2 linked regions of the Homo sapiens genome follow. The protein of the gene in region 2 interacts with the protein of the main gene of each other region in a pairwise test. Each region holds a gene or a part of one and is shown on either strand. Other genes may lie near its edges.

Region 1 (3,923 bases), about 160 Mb from region 2:
CCTGTAATCCCAGCACTTTGGGAGGCTGAGGCGGGCAGATCATGAGGTCAGGAGTTCGAGACCAGCCTGGCCAACATAGTGAAACCCCATCTCTACTAAAAATACAAAAATTAGCTGGGCATGGCTGCGCCTGTAGTCCCAGCTACTCGGGAGGCTGAGGCAGAAGAATCACTTGAACTCGGGAGGCAGAGGTTGTGGTGAGCCGGGATCACACCACTGCACTCCAGCCTAGGCAACAGAGCAAGACTCTGTCTCAAAAAAAAAAAAAAAAAAAAAAAAGACAAAAGATGACACAGTTATGCAAAAATGGGGAAACGGAAATACTATATTAGCGGTTAAGAGATACAATTAAGGAAAATCATGAAATAAGAATAAAACCCAGGCTGGCATGGTGGTAATCCCAGCACTGTGGGAGGCCAAGGTGGGTGGATTGCTTAAGCCCCGGAGTTTGAGACCAGCCTAGGCAACATGGTGAAACCTTGTCTCTACAAAAAATACAAAAAACTAGCCAGGCTTAGAGGCATGCACTAGTAGTCCCAGCTACTCAGGAGGCTGAGGTGGGAGGATTGCTTCAGCATGGGAGACAGAGGCTGCAATGCGCCAAGATTGCACCACTGCATTCCAGCCTAGGCAACAGATCAAGACCCTGTTTCAAAAAAAAGGCGGGGATAATAAGGCCCAAATGAATAAATGTAGAAAGGGTGGCTCAATACTTTGGGAGGACAAGGTAGGAAAATTGCTTGAATCCAGGAGTTTGAGACTAGCCTGGGCAACACAATCAGATCCTGTCTCTACAAAAAATTAAAAAATTAGTGAGGCATGCTGGCACACACCTGTAGTCCCAGCTACTCTGGAAGCTGAAGTGGGAGGATCACTTGAGCCTAAGAGGTAGAGGCACAGTAAGCAGTGATTACACCACTGCACTCCAACGTGGGCAAGAGAGTGAGACCCCATCTCAAAAAAAAAAAAAAAAAAGAAAAGAAAAGAAGAGAGGTGCAGAGGCAGGTCCAAATTATCAACTCTGAAATAAACCACCTTTCAAAATGAGTGACTCTGCAGCATAATTTGACCTGGAAACAACCAGTGAAGAAAGCTGAGAACCTTGTGACACTGAAAATGCCAAAGCTTTAAAATTTGGCTTCTTAGTCTGCAGTTACATAGTAAATTTTACAATTCATAATTATCATTAATATGAAAGCTAGTTTTGTGAGAGGTACTATTAGTATTTTGATGTAAGGTCCTACCTTAAATGTTCATACTTCCACACACCTTCATCTTGGCCTTCAGGTGGTTCAAGAATTTTGTCAATATTGGAGCAATCTGCTCTTATGTTCTGTTGAATATACTAAAAACAAAGAAGTTCTTATGGTTAATTAAATTATATCACCTGGTAAATCTTATGTTAAGTACATATAATTTGTTAATACATAACTGCTCTTGTGGTTCAACTTGGGTTATACACTAAATAGGAAACCAAGTATAGAATCATAATCAGTAACTAAGAAAAAAAGTAGGTTACCCTTACTTATTTATCCTTCAATTCAACTTCATTTGGATAGAATCTACTACATAAATGCAGATATTGTATTTGTCAGGACTGGAACTTGGATCAAAATTGCAAACCATAATTTCTTTTTTTTTTTTTTTTTTTTGAAACAGGGTCTCACTGCATCACCCAGGCTGGAGTACAGTGGCACAATCTCAGATCACTGCAATATCCACCTCCTGGGCTCAAGCAATCCTCCCACCTCAGCCTCCTGAGGAGCTGGGACTACAGGCACACGCCATCACGCCGGGCTAACTTTTCCATATTTTGTAGATACAGGATTTCACCATAGGCAATGTAAATATAACTATGGTACATATTGTGATTTGGTTTATATGAAGTGTCTAGAGTAAGAAAATCTATTGAGACAGGAAATAGATTTGTACTGGTGTAGGGCTTGAGGGCAGAGAGGAAGGCAGAAGAGACTGAAGATGGCTGCTAATGAGGGTGAGGTTTCCTTTCAGGAAGGATAAATATGTTCTAAAAGGCCGGGCGTCGGGGCTCATGCCTGTAATCCCAGCACTTTGGGAGGCCGAGGTGGGCAGATCACAAGGTCAGAAAATCGAGACCATCCTGGCTAATATAGTGAAACCCAATCTCTACTAAAAATACAAAAAAATTAGCCAGGCGTGGTGGCACACACCTGTAGTCCCAGCTACTCTGGAGGCTGAGGCAAGAGAATCGCTTGGACCCGGGAGGCGGAGGTTGCAGTGAACCAAGATCGTGCCACTGCACTCCAGCCTGGGCAACACAGTGAGACTCCATCTCAAAAACAAAACAACAACAAAAAAGCTTTAAAATTAGACTGTAGTGATGGCTGTGCAACCCTGTGAATATAATCACTCTAACTGTATAGGGATTTGTATGGTATGTTCATTAGATCCAATAAAAGTTGTTTTAAATGACTAACAGAAAAAACTAAGTTTAAAAAAAAAGGCAAGGGAGGGTCACTTTCAATTTTTAAAATGTAATAACATAAAAATTTAAATTTCAGATCTCTGTAATGCTTTATGCAATCTTTTTGATATTCTGAAGTCTAAATACGTTAGAACAGATTAAAAGGGTGGTTACAAAAACTTACTAACTATAAGGCCTTCTTGAGCCAATCAATTTTGCCTACTTCAGACAATCTTTCTTGAATATCACTTGCTTACTCAAAAACTTTTTTTTCCAAACAAAAGGTCTCACATATTTAGTACTGAACCAGCCTACTGCAGAGCATAGAAACCAAAAGAAAAACCATTGTTCCAATACAGCATGTACAACTGTCCAGATGATGGTGACATTTTCAGCTTGATATGGTGACATGATAGTGACCTTGATGCAATATTAAGTATGTGTGCCATCTCATGTAAAATTCCTTCTAGACCCAGCTTGGTTCTTTTCCAATGTCTCCTCTTAGAGTTGTACCTGATTTTATTACTCAGTTTTCATCTGAATCCACTGGGGAATGGGACGATTTTGCTTTTGTTTCTTGGCCAGGAATCACTTGATTCTAAAAGTCTTAAAGTCTTGTGGGAAGGCATGGCAAAGAACTGAGTCACACGCACACACCATGATGACAGGGAAAGGGATCAAATACTTTTTTTTTTTTTTTTTTTTTTTTGAGGAGTTTTGCTCCTGTCGCCCAGGCTGGAGTGCAATGGCTCAGTCTTGGCTCACTGCAACCTCCGCCTGCCGGGTTCAAGCGATTCTCCTGCCTCAGCCTCCCGAGTAGCTGGGAATACAAGCACCTGCCATCACGCCCGGCTAATTTTTGTATTTTTTGTAGAGACAGGGTTTCGCCATGTTAGTAAGGCTGGTCTCAAACTCCTGACCTCAGCTGATCCACCCGCCTCGGCCTCCCGAAGTGCTGGGATTACAGGCATGAGCCACCGTACCCAGCCTCAAACACTTTTTAATGACTCTTTAATTACTATTGAAACCACTCTCCCTGATTTTTTTTATCTCATCCTAATGTTTCAAAGTTTTGATTCTCTCTCTCCTTGAGGAGATACAGCTAAATTGTATACCTTCTCCAAAGGCCACCTCAAATTCCACATCACAATTCTGTCCAAATCTCTCGTTCCCCCAACACACTCAAGCACTCCCTGATTATTCGAATCCTCACAGAACTCCATCCAATTTCCTGCCACATTTGTAATTTGTATATATTAGCAATCTGTCTATTCATTTTTGTCTTTCCTGTTCCCACTACACCTTCTATGGATAGAAATTTTTTTTTGTTTTTGAGATAGAGTCTCACTCTGTCGCCCAGGCTGGAGTGTAGTGGCGCAATCTCAGCTCACTACAACCTCTGCCTTCCGGGTTCAAGTGATCCTGTTGTCTCAGCCTTCCAAGTAGCCGGGATTATAGACATGCGCCACCATGCCCAGCT
Region 2 (3,923 bases):
ATGTATTTGGCTCCATCATTGAGCATAGTGCCTGACACACAGTGTGTCTTCAATATTTTATGGTATGTGTGACAGAGGATATAAGACATAACACCATTGACATTTCCAGACTTAACATTTGTGAGTCATCTTGAAAGTACCACTTCATAGAATCATTGTGAAGATTAATAAGGTTTCCAATTTGACTTTTATCATGAGACTGTGCTTAACCTCCCCACTTCCCTCCCTCTTCCCCTGCATACACTATCACTGCATCTCAGTTACTGCTGTTTGAGAATTTGGGGATTCCTGTAGATGTCACTTCCTGTCCATTATGAATGCCATATTTTCAGGAAAAACTGCCATCCATCATATAGTAAGATAAGTGAACAGAAGGAAGTATAGCCAAAGTGCTAAGGGACTTCAGAGAGGGAGAGGACCTCTCTGTTCACTTCCTCAGGGAGTGTGAGTTGTGGTTTCTCCAAAGATGAATTAAATTCAAATGATTTCGTATCAACGTGCTTTAAAAATATTTAGACAAATGGAAGGACAAAAGGAAGGGGGAGGAAATACTCAGTTTTTTTAAGGGGGAAAAATACGTGCTTTTAAATTTTAATTTAAAATTTTTTAACTTTATATTTGTATATTTCCAAGCTTGTTTTGATTTACTGTAGCCTGTCAGAAGAATAATAGAAACCAAGAATCATATTTTATACTGTTATCAGGTGCTATTGTTTATATATTTTACTTTCTCTGAAATCTAAGTACCTTTGTGGTTGTTTTTCTCCTGATTTTGCATTTTTACTGTTTTGTATAGATCCTTCTGTTTTACGAGGCCCTCTGCTAGGCCACACGGATGCAGTCTGGGGTTTGGCTTATAGTGCAGCACATCAGCGTTTGTTGTCCTGTTCAGCAGATGGCACTCTGCGTTTATGGAATACAACTGAGGTTGCTCCAGCACTAAGTGTATTTAATGATACTAAAGGTACATACTTTAAAAAATTATTTTGCTGAATCCTCTATAAAACAGTTTATTCTGAAAATAAGCAAGCAGATAAATGATTCCCTGAACTCTTTAAATTTAATTTGAAAGTTTTTGAAGCCACGAAAGTGTATTTGTTTGAATTTCCAACCTATATATAATTTTGTTTTGTTTTGTTTTGTTTTGTTTTGTTTTTTTTGAGACGGAGTATCACTCTGTTGCCCAGGCTGGAGTGCAGTGGCGCAATCTCGGCTCACTGCAACCTCCATCTCCCAGTTTCAAGCAATTCTCCTGCCTCAGCCTCCAGCACACACCACCACGCTCAGCTAATTTTTGTAGTTTTTTTAGTAGAGACAGGGTTTTGCTGTGTTGGCCAGGCTGGTCTGGAACTCCTGACCTCAAGTGATTCGCCTGCCTCAGCCTCCCGAAGTGCTGGGATTACAGGCATGAGCCACTGCACCCAGCCTATAATTTTTGAAAGCATAGTTTTTGGTGAAAGAACACACAGATTTTAGATTTTAAAAAATTAAGATATAATTTGTATGTAGTGAAAAACAGATATTAAGGATACATTTCAGTGAGTCTGATAGATGAGTACACCCATGTAACTCATACATCAATCAAGACATAGAATCCAGGTGTGGTGGCTCACACCTGTAATCCTAGCACTTTGGGAGGCTGAGGCAGGAGGATCACGAGAGGCCAGGAATTTGGGACCAGCTGGGCAACATAGCGAGGCCCTGTCTCTACATTTTCTTTAAAAAAAAAAAAGACTATATTTGCCCATTCTCGTACCACTATAAAGAAATACCTGAGACTGGGTAATTTGTTTAAAAAAAAAAAAGGTTTAATTGGTTGACGGTTCTGTACAGGAAGCATAGCAACTTTTCTTTGGCTTCTGGGGAGGCCTCAAGCAATTTACAATCATGGTGGAAGTCAAAGGGACAGGAGGCATGTTTTACATGGCCGGAGCAGGAGGAAGAAGGGGGTGGGACCTATTTTTAAACAACCAAATCTTGTGAGAACTCTATCACGAGAATAGCACCAAAGGGGAAAATCCACCCCATGATCCAATCACCTCCCGCCAGGCCGTATCTCCAATATTGGGGATTATGTTTGACATGAGACTTGAGTGAGGACACAGATCCAAACCGTATGAGAGATAGAACATTTCCTTTATCTCCCCAAAGTTCCTTCGTGTCTTTCCAAGTCAGTCCCCTCCTTTCCTTATTCCCAGCCAGAGGTACCCACTGTTGTGATTTCTTTCATCATAGATTAGTTTTATCTACTCAAACGTCATGTAAATGGAATAGTAAAGTATGTGTTCTTTGTATCTTGCTTTTATTCTTCATTATAATGTTTTGGAAATTCATTTGTGTTATATCAATTATTTCTTTCATTTTTATTTGATAGTATTTCATTAAGCCATAATTTGTCTATTCATTTATATCTTGATGGATATTTGGGTTGTCTCTAGTTTTTTGCTATTTTGAACAAGGCTGCTATGAACATTCATATATTTTCATTATAGGTGTGTAGAGACTTAGAATTGCTGGGCTTTCAGGTGGATGTTTATTTTACTTTATGTGAAGTCACTAAAAATTTTTCAAAAAAATTTTGTAGTTGTACCATTTTACACCTTTGACAGCAGTGTATGAGCATTCCAGTTGCTCTGCATCCTTACAAACATACAGTATTGTCAGTCTGTTTAACTTTAGCCATTCTGGTGGATGTGTAGTAGTATTTCATCATAGTTTATTTGCATTTCTTTGATGGCTAATTTTGATGAGCATTTCTTTTGTTTGCTTATTGGTTATTTGTGTATCTTCTTCTGCAGTATGCACATTTTTGAACTGTTACCTTGCTGTAGTTAGATTTTGAGCCAAATGAAAAAAATCAGATTATTATATTCACTTTATATGTTTCCTTCTATTTTTATGTTTATAAATAAGCTCTAAGTTTTCATGTATTCTAGATGGTAAATAAAAATACCTTCTGTATTCTTGAGCTATTATAACTTCTTTCCAGGCTTTGATGAGTTGTCTTCATATGGTATTTGCATGACTCTAACGATAAATAATAATTTTAAATTTTACTTTTTAATTTCTCTATTTTTGATGAGCTAACATCCCTAATAAGAGATGGGTTTTTTAAAATGAAGAATTCCCACTATGTCACTCTAAGCTTGAGGTTGGGCGGAAGCAGCAAAATTTGTAATTCATACATGTTTTCCATTTGCTCTCTAAATAAAGGCTTGCATTCCATGAATATATCAGTTGAGTAACAGGTAGAAGATCTGCTAAGCAGGTAAGGGAAATAAATAGACTAGGGCTAAAAGTTACAAAGAAATAATCTCCAATGAATAGTTATGAGCTAATTCTTATTCTAATGGTAAGCCTTGTTTACTTCTTAAGGAAACCATGCCATTTTTTGTTTTGCTCTATTTTAAGCAGATTGTCAAGTAGATGGTTTAATTGCCATTCTATTTCAATATGTTCTCTTTCAGAACTGGGAATCCCTGCCTCTGTGGATCTAGTGAGCAGTGACCCGAGCCATATGGTAGCATCATTCAGCAAGGGATATACAAGCATTTTTAACATGGAAACACAACAACGCATTCTCACTTTAGAATCCAATGTAGATACAAGTATGCATACCAATTTTAAATTGTCTGTGTTTATTTTTTTAACTTAATCAAAATTACGACTACTAGAGTCAGCTGTGAAAAATATTTGTCATTATAAAGCTTTCTGTCTCTTAACTTTCAGAACACAGTTACTTAGAAGGTTGTAATTATTTACCTTTTAAGAATTTGGGTTAAGTTTATGTACATTTATAACTATACTGTTTGAAATAGCATTTGAGCTGTTATGGGTCAAGTTTTATTTTATACTAAATGATTAATTTTCAATTCTATTTGAAGAAAGCCATATTTATTCTGAATAGGAAATTCTATTTTTCA

What was found.
Region 1: the proteins of STRN (region 2) and MOB4 interact in binary tests that used the Homo sapiens proteins (3 or more experiments, as listed by UniProt).

Annotation. Positions count from the first base shown.
Region 1 is NC_000002.12:197,532,952-197,536,874, reverse strand, and holds part of MOB4 (MOB-like protein phocein), read right to left. Parts: intron 1,346-3,923; coding exon 1,245-1,345; intron 1-1,244. Other genes in the region: HSPE1-MOB4 protein, read right to left, coding at 1,245-1,345.
Region 2 is NC_000002.12:36,854,897-36,858,819, reverse strand, and holds part of STRN (striatin), read left to right. Parts: intron 1-796; coding exon 797-964; intron 965-3,467; coding exon 3,468-3,608; intron 3,609-3,923. UniProt on the Homo sapiens protein: Calmodulin-binding scaffolding protein which is the center of the striatin-interacting phosphatase and kinase (STRIPAK) complexes.